Linked DNA regions of Homo sapiens. The gene in region 1 interacts genetically with each later gene. Each region holds a gene or a part of one and is shown in the gene's direction. Other genes may lie near its edges.

Region 1 (7,018 bases):
ATATATCTTTGAGATAGGGCTTAACAGAGCTTTAAAATCCATAGGAAAACACTTCGAGCCTGAGATACCAAGAGCAGATGGTTCACAGAAGAATCATCAATGTCCTATAAATATTTTTGAGGATCTTCTTGGGGAACTTAAAACAGGAACAGGCCAGGCACAGTGGCTCATTGGCTCATGCCTTTAATCCCAGCACTTTGGGAGACTGAAGGGGCTGGATTGTCTGAGGTCAGGAGTTTGGGACCAGCCTGGCCAACAGGGTGAAACCTCGTCTCTACTAAAAATACAAAAATTAGCCGGGCGTGGTGGCGCACGCCTGTAATCACAGCCGCTCAGGAGGCTGAGGCAGGAGAATTGCTTTAACCCAGGAGGCGGAGGTTGCAGTGAGCTGAGATCACACCACTGCACTCCAGCCTGGGTGACAGAGCAAGACTCCATCTCAGACAAACAAAAAAGGAAGACATAGAGCTCCTAAAAATAACGCAGAAGTCTGCTATTAATACAAATGAATTACTTTAAAGGTGAGAGCAGGTGGAGGAGAGGGCTGAGGTGCCTGCTGGGACGCAAAACAGCTGGCCCCTCAAGGGACCCAGTGTTTCCTGCCATGATGAAACACCTGTATTGTCCACATTGCGGCCTAGAATGTTATTAAACTCTTGAACGGGATTCCTTCTCTATTTGCAACCTTTCATTCTTTGTCCTTAAAGTAAATAAAGCCAAAGGAGGATGGAGCCTTTCCATCACCCCTCAAGAGGACCTGGACCGCCTGTGTGAGGCCCGAGCACCTGGTGCCACCGTCATCACCTTCCTTTCATGCTCTCTTCCCCAGGTAATTATGTGGTGACAGATCACGGCTCGTGCGTCCGAGCCTGTGGGGCCGACAGCTATGAGATGGAGGAAGACGGCGTCCGCAAGTGTAAGAAGTGCGAAGGGCCTTGCCGCAAAGGTAGGAAGCCCGCCGGTGTGCGGACGAGGCTTGTTCTCGGCTGCTGAGGCTGGGCTCTCATGCCACCTCCAAAGGAACACATCTTCCTCTTCTCATTAAAAAACAACTATACATATCGTTTCTTTAAAACAGAAGATAAAGCTGTAAAGCTAGGTTAGGCAATGGGAAGGCACTGAAGGTTGTGACGGGGTGGGGGGCTCTGATGAGAACAGTCACAGAGCCAGCCCCGCTCAGCAGCTGCCAGGTGCCCAGCCCTGGGGAGAATCCAGGGAAGGCAGAGCTGGAAGCAGTGCAGCTCCAAGCGGCCCATGGGAAATAATGAGGAGAACGCAAGGTCAGTGTGAGGTGACAGGGATGGCATCTCCTACACCGCCGTAGCCCCAAAGTGTACTATAGGTCCTGGTGTCCCCCCTTCCCGCCTGCACTCTCCCCAGCCCCTTCAGTGTTTGTTGAGTGAATGAAGGATGATGTGGCAGTGGCGGTTCCGGTGACCGGAATTCCTTCCTGCTTCCCTCTGCCTGTGGATCCCTAGCTATTCTTAATCCAACAAATGTGAACGGAATACACGTCTCTCTTATCTCTGCAGTGTGTAACGGAATAGGTATTGGTGAATTTAAAGACTCACTCTCCATAAATGCTACGAATATTAAACACTTCAAAAACTGCACCTCCATCAGTGGCGATCTCCACATCCTGCCGGTGGCATTTAGGGGGTGAGTCACAGGTTCAGTTGCTTGTATAAAGAAAAACAAAATCTGCCTTTTTAACTGGTAGAGATTGGTGATCAATAATCACCCTGTTGTTTGTTTCAGTGACTCCTTCACACATACTCCTCCTCTGGATCCACAGGAACTGGATATTCTGAAAACCGTAAAGGAAATCACAGGTTTGAGCTGAATTATCACATGAATATAAATGGGAAATCAGTGTTTTAGAGAGAGAACTTTTCGACATATTTCCTGTTCCCTTGGAATAAAAACATTTCTTCTGAAATTTTACCGTTAATGGCTGATGTTTTGATATTTTTCAAAAGTGCAGTTTCTCCTGCAGGCAAAAGGGGACACGTTAAGTCCAGGCTTGGGTCATTCACTGCGGTGTAAACACGCTTTCTCCCTCCCGCCCGGCCCCAGCCAGCTGCCTTGGTGGCCCATAACCCCTGAGGGTAGAGGGAGGGGACAGGGGTAGGTGACAGGCAGCCTGGGCCTCAGGCTTTTGAAACTGGACGCCAGAGCCTTGTGGGGCCACGGGCAAGCCTCGGGTCTATGACTGCCGCCTGAGCTCCGCTTCCTTCCTCTCTAAAATGGGAAGATTAGACCAAAATAACAAGACTGTTTTAAGGTTGGAATCAAATAAGGAAAATTTGTAAAGCTCCTTGTATGTGATACCAGATCCACAATTGGCAGATAATCGCAGCAGGAGCCTCTTCGGGGTAATCAGATACGCGGCGCAGCAGGGGTCTCAGGGCCACAGCCAGGGGGGCGGCGGGAGACATGCGGAATCGCAGCGGAAGGCGGGAGGCAGCTGTGAACTGTGGCTCGGCCTGCGTCCGCCCTGCGCATGTACACTCAGAGAAGATGATAATGAAAAAGAAAGCAAATCCAATTTTCCCACTTACTGTTCATATAATACAGAGTCCCTGAGAGTCTAGAGTAATGTCTCATACAAAAAAGAAACTCCTACGTGGTGTGTGTCTGAAGTCTTTCATCTGCCTTACAGGGTTTTTGCTGATTCAGGCTTGGCCTGAAAACAGGACGGACCTCCATGCCTTTGAGAACCTAGAAATCATACGCGGCAGGACCAAGCAACAGTAAGTTGACCACAGCCAAAGCCTGGTAGATTACATTTGCCTTTTTAGTTGGAAATTAGGCTTAACAGGAGAGTTGCTAAGATAGGGCACAGAGCTCCTGCATCTCTCGCCGGCATTCCCAAATGCTATCTCACATGAGCAGGCACAGGGAGCAAGACTGCACGACCACTGGCACAGGCTGTCCGCTAAACCACAGACTTCTCAGCGCTCGCCAGTGCTTCTGCTTCTGTGTCCACTCCAGATCCCACATTGCACTTAGTTGTCAAATCTTTTCAGTCCATTTCTAACCTATATTAGCTCCTGTGTCTTTCCTTGTCTTTCACGGCCTTGACACTTACAAAACGTGTGGGTCAGGTACTTTGCACACTGTCTAACCATGTCTGTTCAGCTGGTGTTTTCTCAGGATGCAATTGAGGTTATGCACATCTTATCACAGGGACCAGAGAGACTTTTTAGCACCACTCTTCAAGAATTTCCACTTTTTCAGCTTTGACAGTGGAATAGACATGCAGGTGCTCACACACAAGCATCTTTAATATGGTAATGGTAATCATCAGTTTAGTGGTGTGGAGGAGGAGATGGGAATCTCTTAGTGAAACCCGCCTTGGAAGCAGCCTCGTTATGAGAACTGCTGCCCCTACTTGACTCTTAAAGCACTAGATAATACTGTGCAACATTAAAGAGAATAAGAGTGCGTGAAATATGCATTGCCTCCCATAAACTCCCTTGGCTCTGAATCTCTGATACTAAATATGTGGCTACCGTTGCTTCCCAGAAAGGCCTTTTTGCTCTGAATTCTCTGGAATGCTTTCTTTGACCAAGATTCTTATAAAAATAAGAGATTTAGAGCAATTTTCTTGGATGGCTGGTATGAGCCAGTTGGCTTAGTTGTAGGGATTTAAACAAGATAAGGGTTACTTACTTTTCACATTTAATGAGAAGTCTGGTGATTCCAGCTCCTACTGAGACAGGGTGGCCACACGTTCCAGGGTGTGACTCACTGAGGCCCCAGACCTGCCCTGCAAGGAAAACCTGGCTCTGCCCTGGTGTCCTGGCCTCCCTGGGCATATGTGGGGGAGAATTCCTAATGGTATTGGTTACAGGCTCCTATGCGAGACCACTCATCTGTGTAGGAGAAAGGAAAAAGATGGGGGAAAGAAGAGCAGCAGGGAGAGGAGAAGCCTCTGGATGATACTCTAACCCCCTGCCATCCAACACCTGAACATCAGTCTCTTCATCCAGTGCTCTCAGCTGGCCCAGCCCCCAGCCTGGGGTCAGATGAGAGCTTCCTGCAAATGCAGATCTCTTTCCTGTGGCTCCTTCTCAATTACAGACAGCTCCTCCACAAGGTGCACTCTGGCCTTGTGCTCCCTCCCCAAACCAGCCCAGCCCTCCCAGCCTGCATCATCGTGGTCCTGTAGGGGCTAGAGGTTCTCACACCCATCGTGGTCTGGCAGAGGCTGGTGGTTCTCACACCCATCGTGGTCCGGCAGGGGCTTAGTGGTTCTTATACCCATCGTGGTTCAGGAGGGGCTAGTGGTTCTCACACCCATCGTGGTCTGGCTGGGGCTAGTGGTTCTCATGTCCACCGCGTGCTTTCCTGCTCCTCCAGGTGGCTGAGGACATCCCCCCTTCGGTCTGAATGACTTCCATCCAGTCATCTGATATACACATTGGACCACCCAATAGCATCCTAGTGTCATGTTGGATGGTGAAGAAAATGCCACAGTTACTGCTTTCAGGGCCTCACAACCTTGGGCATAGCTTTTTGGAGGAAGGCCCCACTTCCCAGGCATCCCTCCCAGACCTGGTCAGAGGCCCCTGCTCTTTGCTTCCATGTTGCCCACACTCACTGTGCTCTTCACACCGGCTCAAAATGATCTGCTTACGGGGTTGTGTCACCACCAGATCAAGCGTCCTGGAGAGGAGGAAACATATTTAACCTGCACAGAATTTGGGACAGAGAACCTCTAGTGTTTGTTCAATAAATATATGAATGGATAGAGGGACAGGTTGGGTGGTGGATAGATGGATGAACCCACACCTTTGAAGTGTATTTGGCTGTTTGAGAGGTTAGAATATGTTCTCAATTTCCAGGCAAAATGAAAATGGAGAAAATATAATGACATTAAGGCATTTTATTCATCCTCCCCATCTGCCACTGGGTTAAAGATACTAAATAAACAAGGAACTATCTTTTGCCTGGAGGAACTTTAAAAACACCTGCAGTTTTCAAAAGGTGCAGTGTGTGCCTCCCACAGCATGACCTACCATCATTGGAAAGCAGTTTGTAGTCAATCAAAGGTGGTCTGGAGAAACAAAGTTTTCAGGGATACATTGTTTTTATAATTTTTCACCACATGATTTTTCTTCTCTCCAATGTAGTGGTCAGTTTTCTCTTGCAGTCGTCAGCCTGAACATAACATCCTTGGGATTACGCTCCCTCAAGGAGATAAGTGATGGAGATGTGATAATTTCAGGAAACAAAAATTTGTGCTATGCAAATACAATAAACTGGAAAAAACTGTTTGGGACCTCCGGTCAGAAAACCAAAATTATAAGCAACAGAGGTGAAAACAGCTGCAGTAAGTCACCGCTTTCTGTTTAGTTTATGGAGTTGGTTCTAATGGGTCCTTTATTTGTATTTAGAATATTGAAGGGCTATTCCCATTTAAATTACTTTTTTCAGTTCCTTAAGAAGCAAATTAAAATCTTAAGATTCCTAACTGTGAAATTACCATGTGAATTCCATTAAAACTTTTTCCAGATCATTACCATTCAATGGGATGAATTTACCCTGAGGTTTAGGCTACCAATTATTTGTAATGTAAGTAACTAAATTTAGTATTAGTTATATTACCTTTTAGTTGTAGGTCACTCTCTGCTCATTTCAGCCTGTAAAGACTACAGCTACACACATACACACACAGAGGAATGGAATGAGCACTTTACATCAACACTTCCTGTTCTGGCTCTAGAGCCTCAGCTTTTGAAGCTGGTGAGAGCCTGGCCTGTGCTGGGCCTTGGCCACGGGCAGCGTCAGCTTTGAGTCAAGTGCTGGTCTGGCCTCCCTAGCTTTGAGCCTCTGTCAATTCCCTTAATCTGTTTAGGCTTTGGCTTCCTCATCCATAGAATGGAGATATGAATGATTCCTACGCCGTAGTGCTTTGAGAGAATTCAGTGAAATTCCTGTGTGTAAAACCCTTCCATGGTGCCTAGCACACAGCACACAGCCAATGGCCCAATGGCTCCTATCAGCTGTGGGATTTGTCATCAGAACACCACCAGCTCTGCTCCAGGCTGCCCTGGGTACCATCAAAACACACCCTGTGCCCAGCAGCACCTGCTCCTCTGCACACCTGGTTCCTTCAGCAGGGGCAGTGGCCGTGGGAGCACAGAAAACATGGAGTCCCATCTGGTTTAATTGATGCCATTGCCAAAGGGGAGGACTCACGGCACCCCCTCTCGGGTGCCAGGGTGCCTGGCTCCCACCAGGAGGAAGACCTGTCCTCCACTGTCAGGCACATTTCAGTCTTCCCAGCAGCCAGCACAACTACTTTGTCCTTCCAGTCACGGTCGGCCTCTGGGAAGCCCAGTCTGTGTCCTCCTCCTTCAGGGGTAGCCAGCATGTCTGTGTCACCCAAGGTCATGGAGCACAGGGCCCCTCCCGGGAAGGTGCCGTCTCCTCCGGCCCCTCGGGTCCCTGCTCTGTCACTGACTGCTGTGACCCACTCTGTCTCCGCAGAGGCCACAGGCCAGGTCTGCCATGCCTTGTGCTCCCCCGAGGGCTGCTGGGGCCCGGAGCCCAGGGACTGCGTCTCTTGCCGGAATGTCAGCCGAGGCAGGGAATGCGTGGACAAGTGCAACCTTCTGGAGGGGTAGGAGGTTATTTCTTTAATCCCCTTGCGTTGATCAAAAATAAGGCTCCAGGTTGTTGTTATAGCTTTACAGGCATTCTGTTTGATTTTCTCTTCCTTTTATTCTTTGCCCTTGGCTTTTGGAGGTTTTGGGTTTTCTGTGGGGAGACGGGAAGTTGTTTGATTGCGTTATTTTTGGCAAATTTAAGCACAATAGGAAATAAGCAAGTATTATTGCCTAATATAATCCAATAATTTATAGAATCTCTTTTCCTGGAAGTATCTTAAATTTTTCTAAGCTACAAAAAGTTCCTAAGACAAATGAGACAGTCATCAATGGTTCATCTAGCCAACACCGTGGCCATTTGGGCTTTTCTTTGTAGTGCCCGATTCCTGGTGTGTGAAAAT
Region 2 (7,241 bases), on another chromosome or scaffold:
TAGTGAATTACAGAATGTACGCCCTGACTAAAGACATTTAAATTCATGCAAACCTATGGTACTGAAGTCTCTTTTACTTGTCACCAATGTTTTAGTATGTACTTCCATAAAATTACCTTTTCTTAAAAATGTTCTACTGTCCTGTAATCCCAGCACTTTGGGAGGCCGAGGAGGGCGGATCACAAGGTCAGGAATTCGAGACCAGCCTGACCAATATGGTGAAACACCGTCTCTACTAAAAATACAAAAAAATTAGCCAGGCGTGGTGGCGCATCCCTGTAATCCCAGCTACTTGGGAGGCTGAGGCAAGAGAATTGCTTGAACCCGGGAGACAGAGGTTGCAGTGAGCCAAGATGGTGCCACTGCGCTCCAGCCTGGGTGACAGAGCAAGACTCCGTCTCAAAAAAATAATAAAAAAATAAAAGTTCTACTGTGTCTCTAAAGTAAATAAAAATGTGCTATTCTCTGAGAATGGTCATAATCCACTATAGAGCAATATGCACAAGATTACACACAATATATAAAATAAATGTATTCAGAGAAAAGAAGGAAATTCACCAAAATTTCAGGTTATTAATCCCTGGGTTGTGGGACTATGGCTTATTTTTCTTCTTGATTTTTTATATTTTCAGGTTTTCTGCAGTGAGCATGAATTGCAATTATAATCAGGAAAAAAATTCTTTTGCAGAAAAAAACTTTCACAAATTCAGACTGACTTTCTTGTTCCTTAAACTTGGGATGATGAAAAGGAACATTTACTGTGTGCCAACATGGTTCCAGGAAGGGTACTAGATGCTTTACATTCGACCATCAAAACCTATAGAACAACAACCTCAGTTTTGTTTTATCAAAAAATCTTGAAATCTGCAAGACCCAAAGACATAGAAATCTGGAGAAAAGGAAGCAAAAAAACAAAAGGAGAAGGTCTTAAAGAGAATTAAAAGCAAGTAAAAGAAAAAAAATCGAAGATAAGGGCATAGAAGATGATAATTTATACATGCATTTATCAGATATTAGTGCCAACTATGTCTTTTTTTTCACATTTTTATTTTTTGGCCCAAGGGATAAAAGCACAAGTGCCAACTATTTCAAGACACTTTGCTAGAGACTATGGGGCATACAATGACAGGTCGGACATAGATCAAAAGTTAGCATACTTGACAGTCCCTCTGTACACATTTGACATAGTATCTAGCATTAATGGAGCATAACAGAATTGAAATAACACACTCACCAACAATTAAAATGAAGAGAAATATGAGTCATCTGAGAGATACAGAGTACTGTAAAGTTAGTTCAGAGGAAGAAGGAATTACTTCCGGCTGGAGGGATACAGAGGACAGGGGTGTTTTAAGGAAAAAGTCAGTGCTCACACCAAGCAAAAGGATTGAATCTTTCCCAAGCCTGAGTGGCAGGTTTTACCCACGGCGGTTTACTGGCCATCTCTCTGGGGGTGACCCAAAGGCCTCTTAAACTCTATGCCTACAACCAAATCTGATGCCCGTCATCTTTTCCCCGTGTTCCTTGCCCAAGTTAATGGGTTTATTATCCATTTAGTTTTATTCAACAGATGTTCATTGAGTGTCTGGTATGTGTGGCCACTGGGTCTAGTAAAAGACATAGACATCAGACAAGCAAACACAATAATATAAAAGTACAGAAAAAGCAAAGAAAAATGGTACTGTGAGAGAGAAAAGTATGACGGGGAGTTGAGACTGGGTTTAGACCTCTTTGAAGAAATGACATTTAAACTGAGAACTGAAGGATGAAAGGGAGCCAGGAAGGCTTGTAGTTGAAGGGGAGGTTCCTAGCAGAGAGAACAGACTGGGAAAAGAAACTGAGGGAAGAAAGGGCTTAGCAAATTAGAACTTCAGTTCTCTATAACTACAGCAAAGAAAAAATGGGGTGAGTGTGGTGGGAAGTGAAGGTAGAGAAATAACCAGGGCCTTGTATTTTCTGTTACAAATTCTTAATTATATTCTAAAGGCAAGGAAGCCACCAAAGAGGAGATAGCAATGAAAACACAGATACCATCCCTGCCCTTGTGGGGCATACAGCCTAATGAAAGAAATAAATAAATGATTTCAGTCCATGTCCTAAGTGTTAGGATAGGGGACATACTCAGTGCTTTGAGAGCACTGAGGAAGGACACCTAGGCCAGTATGAGAAGGTACTGCAACAGCTTCTTGATCTGTTATGCAGCCGTCAGTGTCTACCTTCCTCTGTATCTGCCACACTGCAGCCCATCCTCTTTCCTTAACACAAATGAGAGCATGTCAGCTCAAAACCATTCATGGTTTCCCAGGAGATAAATTCCAAACCCTTGATCTCATGTCACTGTCTAGCCCTAACCTTTATCTTCTTGGTTTAAACTTCTACTACCTATCACAATGATGTTCCAACTTTTTTTTTTTTTTTTGAGACACAGTTTCACTCTTGTTGCCCAAGCTGGAGTGCAATGGAGCGATCTCGGCTCACTGCAACCTCCGCCTCCCGGGTTCAAACGATTCTCCTGCTTCAGCCTCCCGAGTAGCTAGGATTACAGGTGCACGCCACCACATCCGGCTAATTTTGACTCAACCTATAGTAAGAAATACATTTTTCCTGTACACACACACATGTCCACATAAAACACTAAGACAAAAGTTTTAAGAAACAATTCAGGTAGGATTAACCTGATACTTTCTACTCATTCTGTGCTCTTTTTTGTTGTTGTTGTTTTCTCTAAATGGTGATTGTGACTTATTCATAAACTGCTAAAGGGCCCTGGCCTGCAGTTTGAAAATCACTGACTGCTCCCTCCACTACTACGTTCTCCACTCGGCCCTTAGCAAACTCTGTTCTTTTGCCATTTGCCCTAGCAGTCCCGGATGCCGGGAATGCCCTACCCTTCTTCACTACTCCTGTACACAGCAGGTTCTGACTGCCCTCTCAAAATGCAGCTCAAATGTTTCTTCCACAGGGAAAGCTTTCCACATACTGCCCCATTCACTATCGTCTCACTCTCGTTGCCCAAGCTGGAGTGCAGTGGCGCGATCTCCGCTCACTGCGAGCTCCGCCTCCCGGGTTCAAGCGATTCTTCTGCTTCAGCCTCCCGAGTAGCTGGGATTACAGGCGCCCAGCACCACTCCCGCCTAATTTTTGTATTTTTTAGTAGAGACAGGGTTTCACCATGTTGGCCAGGCTGGTCTCGAACTCCTGACCTCAGGCGATCCGCCCGCCTCGGCCTCCCGAAGTGCTGGGATTACAGGCGTGAGCCACCGCGCCCGGCCTGTTTCTTTACTGATTTGTCTCCCACATTGGAATGTTAGATCTTTGAAGGAACTGATCTACCGAGCTGCCCCAGTAACTTTAGCACCTAAAATAGTGCATAACACAGAGTACGCCTTCAGAAAACATGAGTGACGAATAAGTGGGAGATGAGACAGACGAGGCCACGGGAGTCTTAGGGGCCTGTCTTAAAGCCGTTTTGAGGTGTCCCTTGCAGAGTCAGGGGCAACGGCTAACGCAAGGTACCCAAGCCAGACCCGGGAAAGGGAGAGAGGGAGGGAGTTATAGCGCCCAGGTGCCACGTTTCAGGGCCTACCAGTAATAAGTGACTGTGCAGGCCGCGCACACCCGCTCGGCTGGGGCTTCGCACACCTCACAGCAGAGTCTGCGCCCCTTGGGGACTGCCAGTGGGTAGATCACATTCATGGTGCAGCCAGCAGTGCTGGTCTCTAAGACGGTTGCCCAGCAAGGATACGCTGAACCCCGGCGTCACGTGACGATCGCGGGGCTGCGTACTTGCCAGCATTTCAAGGGCAGAGGGCGGCGGGACGTGACTCGACTAACATCTGGGTGTATTGCTGAAGTTGGAAAAGGGGAAGAAAGAAAGAAAAAGCAGCACAAAACCCACAAGTCCCACGGGTCAAATGGCCGAGAAACGACTCCCAAGGAGTCCAAGTCCAGAAAGGCCCGTACAGTGGCCGGTAAGGGTCAAACATGGCCAGTTCTTCACCCAGGCTAGGAAACGAACGTGAGGGAACGTGACCCTACCAGATGCCCACCCAGCCGGGGATCCCCCTCGTTGCAGTGTCACTTTCGCTGGGCTCTGGGGCAGAACAACTACGCATTTCCAGACTTGGCGAGATCGGGACCTAGTGTCAAAAGAAGGGTAGTGAACCGCCCACTCAGTACGGCGCGGCGCGTACACCAGGTAGGCGAGAAGGGGCGTGGCGCGGCGGCCGCGAAACGTGCGCAGGCGCCGGCCGCTGCGCTGCAGATGGCGGAAATGGATCCGGTAGCCGAGTTCCCCCAGCCTCCCGGTGCTGCGCGCTGGGCTGAGGTTATGGCTCGCTTCGCGGCCAGGCTGGGCGCGCAGGGCCGGCGGGTGGTGTTGGTTACGTCAGGCGGCACCAAGGTCCCACTGGAAGCGCGGCCGGTGCGCTTCCTGGACAACTTCAGCAGCGGGCGGCGCGGTGCAACCTCGGCCGAGGCCTTCCTAGCCGCCGGCTACGGGGTCCTGTTCTTGTATCGCGCTCGCTCTGCCTTCCCCTATGCCCACCGCTTCCCACCCCAGACTTGGCTGTCCGCTCTGCGGCCTTCGGGCCCAGCCCTTTCGGGCTTGCTGAGCCTGGAGGCCGAGGAGAATGCACTTCCGGGTTTTGCTGAGGCTCTGAGGAGCTACCAGGAGGCTGCGGCTGCAGGCACCTTCCTGGCAGTAGAGTTCACCACTTTGGCGGACTATTTGCATCTGTTGCAGGCTGCGGCCCAGGCACTCAATCCGCTAGGTGCGTGCCCTAGGAGTACCCCTTTTGCCTGGAAGCACAGCCTTTCTTTCCAGCCACTTATCCCCTTACCTCCTGCTTACCCACGGATCTCAGCTGGGGAACCCGAGTTGAGAAGGAGCTGATCCTATATCGTACCTCGCCGATTTGTTAACACCTTGTGTTTCTCTTTGCAGGCCCTTCTGCGATGTTTTACCTGGCTGCGGCTGTGTCAGATTTCTATGTTCCTGTCTCTGAAATGCCTGAACACAAGATCCAGTCATCTGGGGGCCCACTGCAGGTGATGGGCGCTTCTCTTCCAGAGATCTAATCCCATATAACCAATCTTGGGTTAATTTCCTCTTGATCTGGAGATGGCCTTTCTGCATCTGTATTCGCTAGGCACAGGGGATACAGAGATGAATAAGACACCGCCCTCCCTCATGGACCTCACAATCTAGTGAGGGAGCTGGACACAGACATAATTACAATACAGAGTGATAAATGCTCTAGTGGAGGTATGTACAAAGTGCAGTCAGATCATGGGGCGAGTGAATCCTGGGGGAGTCGATGAAGCTTCTTGGAGGAGATGAATTGAACTGGGTTTTAAAAGATGAGCAGAACCGAGCGCGGTGGCTCACGCCTGTAATCCCAGCACTTTGGGAGGCCAAGGAGGGCAGATCGCCTGAGGTCAGGAGTTCGAGACCAGCCTGGCCAACATGGTGAAACCCCGTCTCTACTAAAAAAATACAAAAATTAGCCGGGCGTGGTGGCAGGCGCCTGTAATCCCAGCTACTCGGGAGGCTGAGGCAGAAGAATCGCTTGAAACCAGGAGGCGGAGGTTGCAGTGAGCTGAGATCTCGCCATTGCACTCCAGCCCGGGCGACGAGAGCGATACTCCGTCGCAAAAAAAAAAAAAAACACCAAAAATCAAAACAAAATGAGCAGAGGGTGTACGAAGTGGGAAAGGTCATTCCAGGTGGAGTATGGCAGTAGGAATTTGAAAGTGGGCAGTGGGCTGTGAACCGAAGTGCTTTGGTAAGGCTGGAGAGCTGACTGAAGAGATGGCTTGCTTTGTAGAAGACTTTATTTTCCTTTTTTAAGGAGCTTGGACTTTTTCTTGTGGAGCTAAGGGACACATAAGTAGGAGAATGAGATAAAGTTTTTGTTTGAGAACAACATTCTGGCATCAGTATGAAAGACGAAGTAGAGAAGGAGAAAGTGGAGTGGGTAGATTAGTTGGGGGCTATTGTAGGTTAAGGAAGAAATATGGATAAGGTAGGTGTGGTTGTGATTTTAGATTTTTGGAACCTTCAGGAGTTCTTAGTCATTTATTGGGTGATACAGGTAGGATTTTATTAGGAGAAACTCTTATCTGTGGGGCATTTGCCGACTTTGTAGAATAGTTTATTGAGGTCCTACACTGCTGTAGGACTTAGAGATGAAAGCAGTGAAAAGAAACATACCCTGCCTTTGTGTTGCTTCCTCTGCAGAGGAGACAATAAATAAGTCAAATACATAACTCGTTTAGTAGTGATAAATGCTAAGGAGAAAAATAAAGTATAAATAAACTGGTATATGATCCCTATCACACTAACAGCTTTTTTTTAGGGCAAAGTCTGATGATTAGCTTAGTGATTTCACGCTTTTTAATCTCTGGGATCTTTAGTTTATCCCACAGTTTTTAGTTCTATCTTGAAAGTAACAAAGCAACTGAACATTACCCTGAGAAGGGATTGGGGATGAGGTACTAGGAGTTTTGGTCAAGTGAAAATAAAATCAGTTTCCTCACTGCTAAGTTGTGTTACATGTGACAATTTAAAAATGGAATCTAATAGCCATTCTACCAATGCAAGAAATATTTTAGGCTGAGAGGTTTAAAAACCCAACTTTATTTAGGCTTCTGCCAAATATTTGTATGAACAGATTATTTGTATCTGTTTATTTGAGGGTTTGGTTCAAAAATAAAGGGACATGCTTGAGAAAATATTAATGGTGGTAAGGTTGGCAGAGCATGGCAGGGCTTATTCAGAAGGCATGGTTTGCCCCAGAATATGTATGGAGCCTTGAATTTAGGCATCGCTGTGAACTCTACAGAGCCAAGGCTTTTTTTTTTTTTTTTTTTTTTTGTGAGACAAGGTGTCGCTCTGTTGCCCAGGCTGAAGTGCAGTGGCATGAACACAGCTCACTGCAGCCTCAACCTTCCAGGCTCAAGTGATCTTCCCATCTCAGCCTCCTGAGTAGCTGGGACTACAGGTGGGTGCCACCATGCTTGGCTAATTTTTGTATTTTTTTGTAGAGACATGGTTTTGCCATGTTGCCCAGGCTGGTCTTGAACTGGGCTCAAGCGATCCACCCATCCTGGCCTTCCAAAGTGCTGGGATTACAGGCCAAGCCACTGTGTTCCCCTAAGACTTTTTAAACTAAACATTTAACTGAAAAGTTTGATGGTTGAGAAATCCCACTTAAATTTAATTCCTTAGTTTCCCATGA
Region 3 (7,838 bases), on another chromosome or scaffold:
ACTTTGGGAGTCCAAGGCAGGCAGATCACAAGGTCAGGAGTTTGAGACCAGCCTGGCCAACATGGTGAAACTCCATCTCTATTAAAAATACAGATTAGCTGGGCATGGTGGTGGATGCCTGAAATTCCAGCTACTTGAGAGGCTGAGACACGAGAATCGCTTGAACCCAGAAGGCAGAGGTTGCAGTGAGCCGAGATCACGCCACTACACTCCAGCCTGGGCAACAGAGTGAGACTCTGTCTCAAAAAAAAAAAAGAAAAGAAAATTAGCCAGGCATAGTGGCACATGCCTATAATACCAGCTACTTGGGAGGCTGAGTTGGGAGGAGATTGCTTGAGCCTGGGAGTTCTAGGCAGAAGAGAGCTATGATCACGCCACTGCACTGCAGCCTGGGCAACAGAGTGAGACAGACACTGACTCTTAAAAAAAAGAAGACAGTCAAATCTGCCTGTGCCCAAGTTAAGAAGCCCTGGGCTAGGTCACTGCTAAGTGCCCTTCCTGTTCACTTGCTCTTGAAGGCTCTGGCCTCCTGATTTTCAGTCCAGTACTCTTTTCCCGGCGCCCAGTTTCCTGCCCCAGGTTTGGCTGGATGTGGGGAGTGCCCTGGGCAGCGCTGAGCTTTCGTGTGCCTCCCCCCACCCAGGTGGTGGCTGTGGTGATGGACATATTCACTGACATGGAGCTTCTGTGTGACCTCATGGAGGCCTCAAGCCGGCGTGGTGTCCCTGTGTACCTGCTCCTTGCCCAGGAGCACCTGAGGCACTTCCTGGAGATGTGCTACAAGATGGACCTCAATGGGGAGCACCTGCCGGTCAGTGAGGACCAGGGGCAGTAACCAGGGGTGTGGGCGGGGAGTCAGGGAGGGCAGGGGAGCCAGTGGGTGGCCAGTCAGCACTGGGGGGCACTGGGAGTGGGGGGTGGGTTCCCTTAGCTGTCTGGGGTTAGAGACCCCATGGGGCAGAGACATGGCTTGAGCCTCACTCTCTCAAGGTCACCCCCAACCTACTTCCACCTAGAACATGCGTGTGCGGAGCACGTGTGGGGACACATACTGCAGCAAGGCTGGCCGCCGCTTCACGGGGCAGGCCCTGGAGAAGTTCGTCCTCATTGACTGTGAGCAAGTGGTGGCGGGCAGTTACAGGTGAGCAGGCACGAGGAGGCAAGGGGGGCCTGGGGCTGCATCACTGGCTGGCAGCTCTGAGCTTCCCTCCACTCATCCTTTCCTTCGGACACGGGCTGAGTACCTGCCATGTGCCAGGCATCATGCCAGGCTCAGGGGAGGGTGTCGGGGGCATCGGCCCTGGAGGAGCTCACTCTAGGGGAATGATTACTTTAATACCCTTGGTATAGAAAATGACTATGCCCATTGGAACTGGAGTGACTTCAGGGAACCTCCCCCAAGTCCATTTGACAGATGGGGAAGTTGGGGCCTCCATGAGGTCACACACTAAGCAGGGCTAGGGCAAGCACAGACTCTGGAGTTGGAGCTCTGCCCCTCGCTGTGAGCCCTCGTGGTGGTGGGGTTTGGGTCTAGCGTGCTGGACCAGGTATGCACCCCTGGCTGTGACTCCTGCCGACCCCCAGGATCCTGCACTTTGCCTCCTGACCCCCCTGTCCCTCTGCCCCCAGCTTCACCTGGCTTTGCAGCCAGGCCCACACTAGCATGGTGCTGCAGCTGAGGGGCCGCATCGTGGAAGACTTTGACCGGGAGTTCCGCTGTCTGTACGCTGAGTCGCAGCCTGTGGAGGGCTTCTGTGGCGGTGAGGACCCGCTGTCTCCCCGGGCACTGCGTCCTCCCCCTGTGGCCCTAGCCTTCAGGCCTGATGTCCCAAGCCCCACGTCGTCCCTGCCCTCCAGCACCAGCCTCAGCAGCATCAAGCAGTCACCGCTTATGGGTCGCTCCTCCTACCTCGCTCTACCAGGAGGTGGTGATTGCAGTGATACGGGTGTGGTGTCCTCGTCCCTGGGTCCTGCCCGCCGTGAGGCCAGTGGCCAGCCCTCCCTACATCGCCAACTGTCAGACCCTAACCACGGCTCCCCTCCTGGGCTCTATAGGGCCAATCTCGGCAAGCTAGGGGCATACCCATGGTCCCAGTCCTCCCCTGCCCTCAACCATAATAGTACCAGCCCCTTAACCTTGGCAGTGGGGTCACCTCTGCTTCCTCGCTCCCGGCCCCTCCTCCAGTTCCATCGGGGTGCCCCAGCTCTGTCCCGGTTCCCAGAGAATGGGCTCCCAGGAAGCCAAGAGCCCAGCCCCCTGCGGGGTCGATGGGTACCTGGCACAACCCTGGAGACAGTGGAGGAGAAGGAGAAGAAGGCATCTCCAAGTCAGAGCCGTGGCCAGCTGGATCTCCTTGTCCCCTTCCCCAGAGCCCGAGAAGTGGGAGACCCTGACTCTGGGGTTACCCCCAACTCAGGCCCCCTTCGGCCTGGCGAGCAGGCCCCAGAGGACAGGAGGTTGTCCCCAAGCCAGGCCGACAGCCAGCTGGATCTCCTGTCCCGAGCCCTGGGTACTGGGGGTGCCCCTGAGTTGGGTTCCCTCAGACCTGGTGATCGGGCCCTGGAGGACAGGAGGCTGTCCCTAAACCAAAGCCGTGGCCAATCAGACCTCCTGATGCAGTACCCCAAGGCCCAGGGTTCCAGAGTGCCCCTTGAAACCAACTCCTCAGCCAGACCTGCCAGACGGGCACCAGATGAGCGGCGGCAGACCCTGGGGCACAGCCAGCTGGACCTCATCACAAAGTTCGGCCCATTCCGTGGTGAGGGGCCTGGGCCCAATGGTCTCCCGATATCAAGCCCTGCTCGCACGGCTGGAGCTGGGTCTGGGGATGAGAAACGGCTAACCCTGGGCCACAGCAAGCTGGACCTCATCACCAAGTATCATCAGTTGCACGGGGCCAGGCAGGGAACTGAGCCTGGGGGTCCCAAGGGTGGCCATCTCAATGGTGGTAACAGTGACCTGGTCAGGGATGAGAAACGGCTGACCCTGGGTCACAGCAAACTGGACCTCATCACTAAGTACAACAAGTCCAAGTTCAAGCAGCTCCGAAGCCGCTTTGAGTCCTAGCCAAAGGACTGGCATCGGGGGTGCACTGGCAAGGGCAGGCCCCTCCTCTGTCCACCGAGACTCTGGACTTGCTCAGGTCCCAGACTGGGGAAGGGAGGTGTCTAGAAACCCAGGTCAGACACACTCTCTGGGCTCAAGATTCTTGTGTACACACACACACACACACACACACACACACACCCTAACTAGTATCTTCTTGAATCTAGGCTGTGTTTCCAGCCCTGTGCTGGGCCTGTAGAGCTGACAGGTGGGTCACACTCAGACCTGGGGACAGAGGTGAAATGCACAAGCTGCTGGAGAAGGGGTCAGAGCCATATCAAGTTAAAGGTTAACCAGTTACAGAGGGTGTTAGAAAACAAAGGGCAGAGAGTCCTGGAGAAGGTGGAGTAGTCAGAAAACTTTCTTAGAGGAGATGGAGGTGGCCTTTGAGCCAGGCCCTGAAGGATGGGGAGGTTTTGGACAGAGGGAGGAGAGAGTTAGAAAAATTTTTGGTAGAGAGAATCAGGTGAAAGAGATGCCCTAAAGAGGACTGAGTGGGTCTGAGGTGAATGAGTGAGGAAGAGCAGAGTATGTGGATACCCGGAAACACACACACACACACATCATCATTATCATCATCATCATTGTCGTCGTCATCATCTTGCTGAGTCATCATCATCATCATCATCATTGTCGTCGTCATCATCTTGCTGAGTGTCTCTTGAAGTACAGGCTGTGACAGGTTGTGGGCCATTTTCCTGAACTCACCACTTACCCGGGATAGTAAACATGATACACATCAATAAAGGCAGACTTTATTGTGAATCACAGCGCCTGGTGTATCCTGAACTTTGAGGAGTTATGGGAGGGACACGTTGGGGGAATGGGAAGGGCACCATTCAGGCCAATTATGGGGAAACCCCTGGAGGAGGGTGAATGCCGAAGGAGGAATTGGGGGAGTCCAGGGGCTCCAAGTTACCACTGTGACATTTTGAGAGAACCCGGGGCTTTTGCAGATTCTACAAAATGTGGGCCAAGTTCATCCTGTCCAAGTGTGCAGCAGGGCCCTTGGCCCCCATCACTATCCTGGGGACAGAAGTTGGCTGCTGAGTGAGTGATAGAGGCCGTGCGAGAGGCACATCGTGGAAGCCAACCAGCACCCACATCCTTGCCCACCCTGGACCCCTTTCCAGCCTTTTCCTGAGCCCCTGCTTCCTCAGTCCTCCCCTCTCTCCAGCACCTGCAGCCTGGCTGCCTTTCCGTCTCTGGCTGCGCTCTTTCTCCAGCCTCGGTCTGGCCGCACTTCTGCCTCCTGGAACTCTCTCCATGGGTAGCCTCTTCTAGTCCACCCGTCTTCAGCCCCTCATCTCATTCGTCAGCACTCCACTCCCCTGCTGGGCTCCAGACATGGACTTCTGTCCCTCAAGGCACAGCTGGACTCATCCCTTTCCCCAAACCTGCCCTTCCTCCGGCTTCATTTCCATCAATACCTCCATCATCAACCCTTCCGCGAGACACTCCTGGCCCCTCCTCTCCCTCATGCCTCACAACCGACCAGCCGGAGGTCTAGGTCGATGACAGCTCCTAAAAAGCTCCTGAATGAATAATGAATGAATGAACGCGAGCAGGCTAGGCGTGGGGCCAGGCGGGGTCGCGCCCAGACCGCTCGCGACCATAGAGTCCGCCGGAGGCCGGAGGTAGAGGGGCTGGATGCGTGGCGGGGAGCGCCGGGCTCTCCCGGAAGTCTCCCTGGACGGAAGTGGAAACGGAAACCTTTTTAGGGAGTCCAAGGTACAGTCGCCGCGTGCGGAGCTTGTTACTGGTTACTTGGTAAGCTGGTGTGAGGGGAACCTGGGAGGGTCAGCTCCGGTCCTGGGTCGGGAGGGGTGGGGGCCAGAGGATTCAGGGCCGGAGGTTCTGGTGGGGGCCCAGTGGGCGGGACCCGAGGACGGAGGGGCCGGGAGGCCGAGAGGGGCGGGGTCGCGGCGGGGCCTGAGGGACGGAGGCCGGGATACTTGGGAAAGGATCCGCCGGCCTTGAACTCCCGCCTCCGCCGCCCCTAGGCCTCATGGCGGTCCGAGCTTCGTTCGAGAACAACTGTGAGATCGGCTGCTTTGCCAAGCTCACCAACACCTACTGTCTGGTAGCGATCGGAGGCTCAGAGAACTTCTACAGGTGCGGCGGGAGCCCCGGGGCTTACGGTGGCGGGGAGGCGTGCGCAGGAGTCAAGAGCTCCGGCAGTGGGAGGGTGCCGGCCCCTCTGCCCCGCCACCACCGAGTCCATGTCCCTACAGTGTGTTCGAGGGCGAGCTCTCCGATACCATCCCCGTGGTGCACGCGTCTATCGCCGGCTGCCGCATCATCGGGCGCATGTGTGTGGGTAAGGCAGGTGGAGGACGCCGAGGGAGGGAGTGGTCTCCAAGCACCATTAATTACACCCCCGGAGGGAACCCGGAGTGACCTAGGGATTCCCAGGGTATCATCTGTTATCTCTGGGCACTATAGAATCTCTCAGGCCAAGCGTCAGGAGATCGGGGCAACCCTCTAGCAAAGGCTGCTGGATAATAGTAATAACAAATAATGTAAAGTGCTTTCACTCCTGTTCTCATTCCTTCGTCACAAAGACACTAGAAGGTAGGAGTTACTGGCCTAACTTGACTGATGAGGAAGTTGAGACTTGACCTAAGTGACTCAGTAAGTTCCACACCTAGTTCCTAGTGTTGGAGAAGGATTTTTCTCTTTTTTTTTTTTTTTTGAGGCCAGATTTTTGCTCTTTCGCCCAGGCTGGAGTGCAGTGGCAAGATCACAGCTGTCTGCATCCTCAACTTCTTAGGCTCAAGTGATCCTCCCACCTCAGCCTACCAGGTAGCTAGGGCCACAGGCACGTGCCACCACACCTGGCTAATTTTTACATTTTTGGTAGAGACGCGGCCTCCCTGTGTTGCCCAGCCTGGCCTTGATCTCCTGGGCTCAAGTGATCTTCTTACCTTGGTCTCTTAAAGTGTTGGGATTATAGGCGAGAGCCACTATACCCAGCCGAGGATTTGTATCTCATCTCTCCCTGCCACTGACTGGGCAAGGTGCTTTCTCTTTCTAAGCATCCATTTCTGTCTCTGTAAAGATTAGCTAAGATATGCGGTCTTCCTGCTCAGTTACGTTGGAATCTTAAATTCCCTTTACCACATCTCTACCCTACCTTCCTACCTGTCAGCACTGTTAATTCTGGTCGTTGGTCCTTTCCTTTTTATTATTATTATTATTTTTTTTTGAGATGGAGTTTTCGCTCTTGTTGCCCAGGCTGGAGTGCAATGGCACGATCTTGGCTCACTGCAACACTCTCTTCAAGTGATTCTCCTGCCTCAGCCTCCCAAGTAGCTGGGATTACAGGCGCATCCCGCCACACCCGGCTAATTTTTTTGTATTTTTAGTAGAGATGGAGTTTCACCATGTTGGCCAGGCTGGTCTTGAACTCCTGACCTCAGGTGATCCTCCCACCTCGGCCTCCCAAAGTGCTGGGATTACAGGCGTGAGCCACTGCGCCCGGCCGGTCCTTTCATTAAGCTGGATCTGTCTTCCATTACTGCTGCCCATTGTTTCTTAGTTCTGCTCATTGAGGTCACTTTTAGAAGTCTGTTTATTTTATTTTTTTACTTTTACTTTAATTTTTAAAAATCTTAAGCCTGCTTGGGAGGTCGAGGCAGGTGGATCACCTGAGGTCAGCAGTTCGAGACTAACCTGACCAACATGGAGAAACCCCGTCTCTACTAAAAATACAGAAATTAGCCGGGTGTGGTGGCGCATACCTATAATCCCAGCTACTTGGGAGGCTGAGGCGGGAGAATTGCTTGAACCCTGGAGGTGGAGCTCACCCTGCGGTGAGCTGAGATTGTGCCATTGCATTTCAGCCTGGGCAATAAGAGTGAAACTGTGTCTCAAAAAAAAACAAAAAACAAAAAACAACAACAACAAAAACTTAAGCCTAGTGACCTCAAAGTATTTTCCTATTCAGTTAAAATACTCTGATCTCTAACCATGCCCTTAGGACTTGAAGCAAGTTCTGACAACAAGGGAGATTTTAGCTTAGTCCTTGTGTATTTTATGATGGGAGTGACCTGGAATTCAGAAATTGATTGGCGTGTATTTGTAGATTGTTCATTCTTGTTGCTGTATGGTGTGTTTTGTGTAAGTATATCACAACGTATTCATCCATTCCATCGACAGTGCATTTGGGCAGTTTTCACTTTGGTCTGTTAGGAATAGTGCTGCTGGCCGGGCATGGTGGCTCACGCCTGTAATCCCAGCACTCTGGGAGGCCGAGGCGGGCGGATCACGAGGTCGGGAGATCGAGACCATCCTGGTTAACACGGTGAAACCCCGTGTCTACTAAAAATACAAAAAAATTAGCCAGGTGTGGTGGCGGGTGCCTGTAGTCCCAGCTACTTGGGAGGTTGAGGCAGGAGAATGGTGTGAACCGGGGAGGTAGAACTTGCAGTGAGCCGAGATTGTGCCACTGCACTCCAGCCTGGGCAACAGAACAAGACTCCGTCTCAAAAAAAAAAAAAAAAGTAATAGTGCTGCTATGTTTTTTTAGTGAACACATGTACATATTTCTACTGGGTATATGATACCTAAGAGTGGCATGGCAGAGTCACAGGTTATGTGACTATTTAGTAGTAGTTGCAGATGATGCCAGATAATTATCTAAAGTGATTGACCAACTTACACTCCTGTCTCAGTATGAGAGTTCAGTTGCTCCATATATCTTTGCCAACACTTGGAATTGATGACTTGT
Region 4 (7,824 bases), on another chromosome or scaffold:
AGCTCTCAGGTTCTGGGAAGGTGTTCCTGCCCCCACCCGCCCCTGAGACACCTAGCACAGTGGCCTCATGCAGCTTAGAAAGGAGAGGCAGCAGGCCAGGCACGGTGGCTCATGCCTGTAATCCCAGCACTTTGGGAGACTGAGGCGGGTGGATCACTTGAGGCCAGGAGTTCAAGACCAGCCTGCCCAACATGGCAAAACCCCATCTGTACTAAAAACACAAAAATTAGCCGGGCATGATGGTGTATGACTGTAGCCTCAGCTACTCAGGAGGCTGAGGCAGGAGAATTGTTTGAACCCAGGAGACAGAGGTTGCAGTGAGCCGAGATTGCGCCATTGCACTCCAGCCTGGGGGACAGCGTGAGACTCTCAAAAAAAAAAAAAAAAAAAAGAGGCAGGATGAGGGTTGACAGACGGCTTGCCTGCCTGATGTCCTCTCTGCTGATCCCTCCCTGGAGCTGGAACTGACAAGAGTTGGCCCTGGGACTGCAGGGCTGGAAGGCTGGAAACTGACTTGCTAGGGGTGGTCACTGTTACCAAGAAGGCCAAGAAGGAGCCAGCAGAGGAAAACAGAGGAGAAAGAGGGGCACAGGGAGAAAGGATGGGGACCATCACATAAGCTGCTGGATCCTGCCACGCCTGACAGCCACCCTGCAGCCAAACTTTTCTCTCTTTTTCCCTGAGACAGTCTCACTTTGTCCCCCAGGATGGAGTGCAGTGGCGTGATCTCGGCTCACTGTAACCTCCACCTACCGGGTTCAAGTGATTCTCCCGCCTCACCTTCCCCAGTAGCTGGGACTACAGGTGCTCGCCACCATGCCTGGCTAATTTTTGTATTTTTAGTCGAGATGAAGTTTCACCACGTTGGGCAGGCTGGTCTCGAACTCCTGACCTCAGGTGATCCGCCTACCTCGGCCTCCCAAAGTGCTGGGATTACAGGTGTGAGTCACTGCACCCAGTCCCAACTTTTCTCTTCTGGGAGGTAACGCATTTAAAGCGCCTTGATTTCTGCCCTTCTATCCTGGCTCATGCTGGAAGAGCCTCCAGCTTCTCAATGACCTTCCCAAACAATTCAATGAAGATATGAACTGCCCTCCCCAGGGGTCTCTGTCTGTGCAGACGCACACCAGGCCTGTTAGTTGTCACAACTTCCTCTGAGATGGGACTAAAGGCCCAGGAAAGCTCAGTGACACCCCCAGAACACAGCAAATGGGCTGCTCAAACAGCTGCTTGCAGGGGTTTCCTGGCCCTTCCATCAACGGCTGGGCTGAGGAACCCCAAAGGCCGGCTGCACCTTCAGATTGAGGGACCTTGGCTCCTTGAGGGAAGCCCCCATGACCTCCAGGCTGAGCAGAGGCTGGGGAGTGCTGAGACTGGCTGTGTGTCCCAGACCAAAGACGTCGGGCCACCTCCTCCTTTGAAGGGCGGTGGGAGGGGAGAGGCGGGCCCCGCTCACTTGCACGTGTTGGTGAAGATGATAATGGACCAGTCCTCGTGCTCATCCTGGAAGCGCTGGATCAGGTGGACCAGGTAGGCGTCCTTGACCTTCTCAGGCACCAGCAGGTAGCGCTGGTCCAGCTGCTCCACGGTGCTCACCCTGGGGATGGACAGATAGACCGCCACGCCTCAGTGTCCCTGTCTGTAGGATGGGGCTGCCCTCCCCACGCTGTCTGGGCTGTGGACTCACGGGGCCTGTGCTTCCCAGAAGAAGGGCTGGTTGGTGGCCAGACCCTGCAGCTCCCGGAGTGTGTCGGTCAGCGTGGCGCTGAACAGCAGTGTCTGCCTGCGGGCCGGCACAGCCGCCAGGATGGCCTCCAGGTCCACGGTGAAGTCAGTGCAGCCCTGTTCCAGCAGCCGGTCTGCCTCATCCATCACCTGCCGTGCCAATGGGGGCAGGGGTGAGGGTGCCGTCCATGGCCCCGGGTCTTGGCCACCCCTGAAGCAGGCCTCTTTGAGAGGCATGGACATGGACCCTAGGCCCTGGAGTACCCTCCTTCCAAGGGAGGCCTGCCCCTCACCCAAGTCTCAGCAAGGCCCTACCCCCGAATAACATTGCTAGGACTGGGCCCCCTCTTGTTGGTCCTTGAACGGTCCTTGTCACTGTTCCTAGCGTTTTACTGGACAGTCTAACGGACATACGTTTCCTAAATGGATGAGATGGTGCCCCAGGCTCTGACATTGGGCCTGGAGGCTCCGAGCCCAGCTCCTGAGGTCTGCAGGGGCGGGGCGAACTCACCAGGAAGCGGATCTTCTTTATACTAAAAGTGTTGGAGCTGCGCAGGTGATCTGCCAGGCGCCCCGGCGTGGCGATGACCACGTGTGGTTTCCGAGAGAGCTCCAGCGCCTGGGCCACCATGTCTGGGGGACAGAGCATGAGAGGCAGGGCTGGGCAGGTGGTCCAAAGCTGCTAGGGTCCCATGCTGGGGCTTCCCCCGCCTCCCAGCTCCCGTACCCATGCCACCGACGATGATGCAGTCTTTCAGCCCTAGAGGCTTCCCCAGGACCCGGAACTGCTCTGCGATCTGGTAGGCCAGCTCCCTGTGGGTGTGAAGGGGCCAGGCTGGGTCAGGTAGTGGTTCTGGACCTGCCCCCCATTCCCCTCTCCATCCCCAGGGTTCCTCCCTGAGCCCCCAGGCTCCTGACTTGCCCAGTCCTGTTCACAAAGGCTCTGATGCTGAGCCTTGGAGGCCATTGTGGCCCCTGCCCCCTCGCCAGGCTCAGCCTGGAACATCCCTCCTTCACCAGCCCGACCCAAGCTGACCTCAGCATCTCTTCCTATCCCAAACCTGTGCCTTCCCCCAGTTCGCCTTTCAGCAATGGCCTCACCACCAGCCAGTTGCCCCAGCCAGAGGGTCTCAAGCATCAGCCTCCTTTCTGCCCCCAACCAACTCTGTCCTGGCCTCTCCCTGGCTCATGACCTTTCCTGCTCACACACCCCCAGAATCAATTCTAACCCTCCGCCTGGCATTCAAGGCCTTTCTCAAACTGGCTCCAATATGCCCAGGTCCCAGTACCCTTTCTGCTGCCTGCCTCTTTCTTTCTTTCTTTTTTTTTTTTTTGAGACAGAGTTTTGCTCTTGTTGCCCAGGCTGGAGTGCAATGGCACGATCTTGGCTCACCGCAACCTCCGCCTCCTGGGTTCAAGCGATTCTCCTGCCTCGGCCTCCCGAGTAGCTGGGATTACGGCATGCGCTACCATGCCCAGCTAATTTTTTGTATTTTTAGTAGAGACGGGGTTTCTCCATGTTGGTCAGGCTGGTCTCAAACTCCTGGCCTCAAGTGATCCGCTCACCTGGAGCTCCCAAAGTGCTGGGATTACAGGTGTGAGCCACTGCACCGGGGCCATCTTGTTTAATTCTGCAGGACCCCTAAGAAGCGGGTAGCAAGATTTTCATGCTCATCTCACACGTGGGAAAAGGGCGCTCAGAGAGGGAAAGGTGCTTGCCCAAGAGAGCACAGCTGGTTAACCCATACCCAGGAGGCCTGCTGGGGGCTTACCTGGTGGGTGTCAGGACGAGGCAGAAGATGCCATAGGGATCCTCAGACAGCTTCTGCAAGATGGGAAGGACAAACGCTGCTGTCTTCCCACTGCCTGTCTTAGCACAGCCCAAGCAGTCTCGACCTGGGTTGGGGACAAAGCAGCATCAACACCCTCCATGTGTGGACAGCTGGGTTTCAGAGACCTTGCCCAGGACACACTGCCAGTGAGTGGCAGGCTGGACTGGAACCCATATCCATTTGACCCGAGATGCCCACAGCTTCCTACCACCTCGTTCTAACTCCGTCCAGGAGCACGTGAATTTGGGGAATCCAGAATTCCCTTCCCTCATATGCATCTTGTGCTCCCTGTTGACCCCTTCATTTGTTTATTTAATCCCTGACTTATCACATCTTAGGCTTCCTGTGGGCCTCTCTTTAATGGCGAAACTGGGTTGGGCTAGAGGAGCAGAGAGAAGACCTTCTCCTAGAGGAGCAATCACAGGACCAAGGAGTCCTGGATCTACCAGCAATTTTGACAGCCTCAACTTCTATTTGTAAAATAAAGATAGCAGTACCAGGTCTGCAGGATTTTGCGATACTATCGGACTAGTCATCCATCAAACCCTCCCTGTGCTGAGACTATGAAAATTTCAGAGATTACATCACTTGCGTACGAACACAAAGCGAGTCAGTCATGCAACCTAAATGCCAACACTGTCCAGTCGTCCTCCGGAACCCCGGATCTCCTGTAACGCCCGAGGTTGCCCCTCGCCTCGTGGGACCGGAATAAGCAAAGGTTGCGAGAAGGGAAAGGAGTCGAGAGGAGCGGAGAGGCCTCTTGGGGAAGGCCCTGGGCCATACTCACCCTCCAGGATGGCGGGGATGCAGCCGAGCTGCACGGGCGTGGGCTGCTTCAAACCCAGCTGCCGACATTGTTCCACGAGCCACGATGACAGCCCGAGCTCCGCGAAGCCTGCCATCCTTGTGGCCGCTTGTAGGGGCCCCTTGTAGGGGCCCGTGTGATCCGCGCTTCCGGCGCGCGCCGACGACGTCACGAGAAAAATCTTCCTGTTTATTGGATCTGCCTCCTGCGTGGTCCCACCCTCTCCAGCTCCCTCAGCCTATTCCCAGCCTCGACCGCATCCTTATCATGTTTCCCCGGATCCCATTGGCTTGCAGAAACACACTACAATTCCCGAGATGCTCTCCGTGACGCACTTACGCCTTCCGCCCCCTTGCATATTATTGTGGAGCTTCCCATTGGCTTACTTCGCCGCCGCTCGGAAAAAGTAAACTACATTTCCTAGCGTGCCCGTGTCTTGCTTCCGGCTGACGTGTCTTTCAGGAAGAGGAGCTGGTGAGAAGACAGCGAAATGGCGCCTCCGGCCCCCGGCCCGGCCTCCGGCGGCTCCGGGGAGGTAGACGAGCTGTTCGACGTAAAGAACGCCTTCTACATCGGCAGCTACCAGCAGTGCATAAACGAGGCGCAGCGGGTGAAGGTGCGGCCGCGCAGGGGCGCGGGGACGCTGGGGGCGGAGGCGGAGGACGCTTTCTGGTGGCCGCGAGCCGCGTTCTGCGTCTAAAAACTTTCTCTTTTCTTCTCGCGTTTTTTGGGCCACCTCTTCCACAGTTCAGTGAGGAGTAGTCACTGTCCCGTGACAGAACCCAGAGCAGTAACAGTTTACGGTACTGCTCACTCGTACAGCGTTCTCTCTGCGCCCTTGAAAGTGTTTTGAGTAAGGGAGGTGTTTATGCCACTGTAGTGACAATAAGCCTATTTTGTTCAGCCATACCTTCAGTTCCCGTGAGATGGAGACTGTTGCTTATCCTCATTTTACGGATGAGAACCCTAAAGTTCAGAGAAGGACGTTTCCCTGCCCAACCAGCCTGGTTATTTCTCCCAGAGCTTACCCATTCATTCATTCATTCTTCATTGAGCACTTTTTTGGACGGGCACTGTATTCCGCTGGACTCAGAATGATAAACACAGTTTCCCAGCGCAGTGGCTCAAACGCCTGTAATTCTGGCGCTTTGGGAGGCCGAGGCGGGCAGATCGCATGCGCCCAGGAGTTCGAGACCAGCTTGGGCAACGTGGAGAAACCATGAGTCTACCAAAAATTAGCCGGGCGTGGTGGCGGGCACTTGTAATCTCAGCTACCGGGAGGCTGAGACAGGAGAATCGCTTCAACCCGGAGGCCGAGGTTGCAGTGAACCGAGATCGCGCCACTGCACTCCAGCCTGGGTGACAAAGTTGTAAGAATTAAAGAGGAAAGAAACACGAAAGGTGGCTTGCCAGTCAAGACAGGTTTATTTTAGAGAAAACAAACCTGAGAGGCGCCTTCTGGCGGAGTTGGGTCAGAGTAACACTCTTTTACAGACTAAGAGTTTTTAAGGATTCAGGGTCGGAGAGTTTATCAGAGGCTTGAACTGCTTCTGTGTCTCTTCGTTGTGCTTATCTGGGAGGGAGAGTTGTGTGTCTGTTCCCATACATCTTTCTTTTTTCTTTTCTTTTCTTTTCTTTTTTTTTTTTTTTTGAGATGGAGACTCGCGCTGTTGCCAGGCTGGAGTGCAGTGGCGTGATCTCGGCTCACTGCAACCTCCGCCCCCAGGTTCAAGCAATTCTCCTTTCTCAGCCTCTCGAGTAGCTGGGATTACAGGCGCGCGCCACCATGGCCCGGCTAATTTTTGTATTTTTAGTAGAGACGGGGTTTCACCATGTTGGCCAGGATGGTCTCCATCTCTTGACCTTGTGATCTGCCCGCCTTGGCCTACCAAAGTGTTGGGATTACAGGTGTGAGCCACCGTGCCCAGCCTCCCATACATCTTTCTGCAGCTGCAGGCATACCCCCCTACTCTGCTTTTAGCTTGCCTATTTTAGTGCACCTGAAGGGAAAGGAATGTGCTTATTAAGGCCCACTGTTTTACTGGGGCCCGTTGTATGAAGGTGAAGTTTGGCAGTTACCCAAGAAATTTTCTTCCCACTCTCTCTCTGTCCGAGCTGTCTTTCTGTGTTTTACTGTCTCCTCTTTCTGGCTGCTTGTAGTTAGAAGTGATTTCCTGGCCGGGCGCGGTGGTTCACACCTGTAATTCCAGCACTTTGGGAGGCGGGCGGATCACCTGAGGTCAGGAGTTCGAGACCAGCCTGACCAACTTGGTGAAACCCCGTCTCTACTAAAAAATACAAAAATTAGCCGGGCATGGTGGCAGGCACCTTAATCCCAGCTACTTGGGAGGCAGAGGCAGGAGAATCGTTTGAACCCAGGAGGTGGAGGTTGCAGTGAGCCAAGATCCAGCCATTGCATTCAAGCCTGGGGAACAAGAGCGAGACTTCTCTATTAAAAAAAAAGAAAAAAGAAATTTCCTTAAAATTCATGAGGCTAGAAAGGGGGCTGGAACTTAAAGTGGCAGTGTTTGTCTGAGATGTTGGTGCTCTTACTATGTCAAAAGTGAGACCCTATCTCAAAAAAAAAAAAAAAAAAAGAAAAAAAGAATGTTTCTAGTAGGCTTTCTTGTCTTCACCAGAACCCGCCACTGGAAAAAGAAAAAAAAAAAGGCAGAGGGAGATTTGAGACACAGAGATGATGGAAGCAGAGATGGGAGTAATGTGGCTACAAACTGAGGAATGTAACAGTCACCAAAAGCTGGGAGAGGCAGGGAAGTATCCTCCCCTAGAGCCTTTGGAAGGAGTGTGGCCCTGCTGACACCTTGATTTGGGACTTCTGGCCTCCAGGACTGTGACTGTGAAGGAATACTTTTTTTTTTTTTTTTTTTTTTTTTGAGACAGGATCTCACTCTGTGTCACCCAGGCTGGAGTGCAGTGGCATCCTCCTCCTCCTGGGTTCAAGCGATTGTCCTGCCTCAGCCTCCCAAGTGGCTAGGATTACAGGTGCCCACCACCACACCCAGCTAATTTTTTTTTTGTTTTTTTGTTTTTGAGATGGAGTCTTGCCCTGTTGCCCAGGCTGGAGTGCAGTGGCACGATCTCAGCTCACCACAACCTCTGCCTCCCGGGTTCAAGCAGTTCTCCTGCCTCAGCCTCCCTAGTAGCTGGGACTACAGGCGTGTGCCACCACACCCAGCTAATTTTTGTATTTTTCCTAGTGATGGGGTTTCACTGTGTTGGCCAGGCTCGTCTGTAACTCCTGACCTCATGATCCGCCTGCCTCAGCCTCCCAAAGTGCTGGGATTATAGGCATGAGTTACCGTTCCTGGCCTAATTTTTGTATTTTTAGTAGAGACAGGGTTTTATCATGTTGGTCAGGCTGATCTCGAACTCTTGACCTCAAGTGATCTGCCCGCCTCAGCCTCCCACAGTGCTGGGATTACAGGTGTGAGCCACCACGCC

Evidence for each region.
Region 2: changes in EGFR (region 1) and PPCS together harm fitness more than expected from each alone (negative genetic interaction), as found in Homo sapiens cells (2 studies listed by BioGRID).
Region 3: changes in EGFR (region 1) and EIF6 together harm fitness more than expected from each alone (negative genetic interaction), as found in Homo sapiens cells (2 studies listed by BioGRID).
Region 4: changes in EGFR (region 1) and COPE together harm fitness more than expected from each alone (negative genetic interaction), as found in Homo sapiens cells (2 studies listed by BioGRID).

Annotation. Positions count from the first base shown.
Region 1 is NC_000007.14:55,155,001-55,162,018, forward strand, and holds part of EGFR (epidermal growth factor receptor isoform a precursor), read left to right. Parts: intron 1-829; coding exon 830-946; intron 947-1,532; coding exon 1,533-1,659; intron 1,660-1,758; coding exon 1,759-1,832; coding exon of another isoform or gene 1,833-1,843; exon of another isoform or gene 1,844-1,939; intron 1,940-2,662; coding exon 2,663-2,753; intron 2,754-5,138; coding exon 5,139-5,338; intron 5,339-6,498; coding exon 6,499-6,631; intron 6,632-7,018. UniProt on the Homo sapiens protein: Receptor tyrosine kinase binding ligands of the EGF family and activating several signaling cascades to convert extracellular cues into appropriate cellular responses.
Region 2 is NC_000001.11:42,452,302-42,459,542, forward strand, and holds the start of PPCS (phosphopantothenate--cysteine ligase), read left to right. Parts: upstream 1-4,241; 5' UTR 4,242-4,264; coding exon 4,265-4,772; exon of another isoform or gene 4,773-4,945; coding exon 4,946-5,049; exon of another isoform or gene 5,050-5,266; intron 5,267-7,241. Other genes in the region: ZMYND12 (zinc finger MYND domain-containing protein 12), read right to left, coding at 3,587-3,696. UniProt on the Homo sapiens protein: Catalyzes the second step in the biosynthesis of coenzyme A from vitamin B5, where cysteine is conjugated to 4'-phosphopantothenate to form 4-phosphopantothenoylcysteine. Has a preference for ATP over CTP as a cosubstrate.
Region 3 is NC_000020.11:35,281,764-35,289,601, reverse strand, and holds the start of EIF6 (eukaryotic translation initiation factor 6), read left to right. Parts: upstream 1-4,829; 5' UTR 4,830-4,876; intron 4,877-4,884; exon of another isoform or gene 4,885-5,109; 5' UTR 5,110-5,114; coding exon 5,115-5,221; coding exon of another isoform or gene 5,222-5,340; coding exon 5,341-5,426; intron 5,427-7,838. Other genes in the region: protein FAM83C, read left to right, coding at 644-811, 1,017-1,141, 1,630-3,067. UniProt on the Homo sapiens protein: Binds to the 60S ribosomal subunit and prevents its association with the 40S ribosomal subunit to form the 80S initiation complex in the cytoplasm. Behaves as a stimulatory translation initiation factor downstream insulin/growth factors.
Region 4 is NC_000019.10:18,916,377-18,924,200, reverse strand, and holds the start of COPE (coatomer subunit epsilon), read left to right. Parts: upstream 1-4,813; 5' UTR 4,814-4,852; coding exon 4,853-4,978; intron 4,979-7,824. Other genes in the region: probable ATP-dependent RNA helicase DDX49, read right to left, coding at 1,457-1,597, 1,688-1,875, 2,237-2,358, 2,453-2,538, 3,498-3,621, 4,345-4,459. UniProt on the Homo sapiens protein: The coatomer is a cytosolic protein complex that binds to dilysine motifs and reversibly associates with Golgi non-clathrin-coated vesicles, which further mediate biosynthetic protein transport from the ER, via the Golgi up to the trans Golgi network.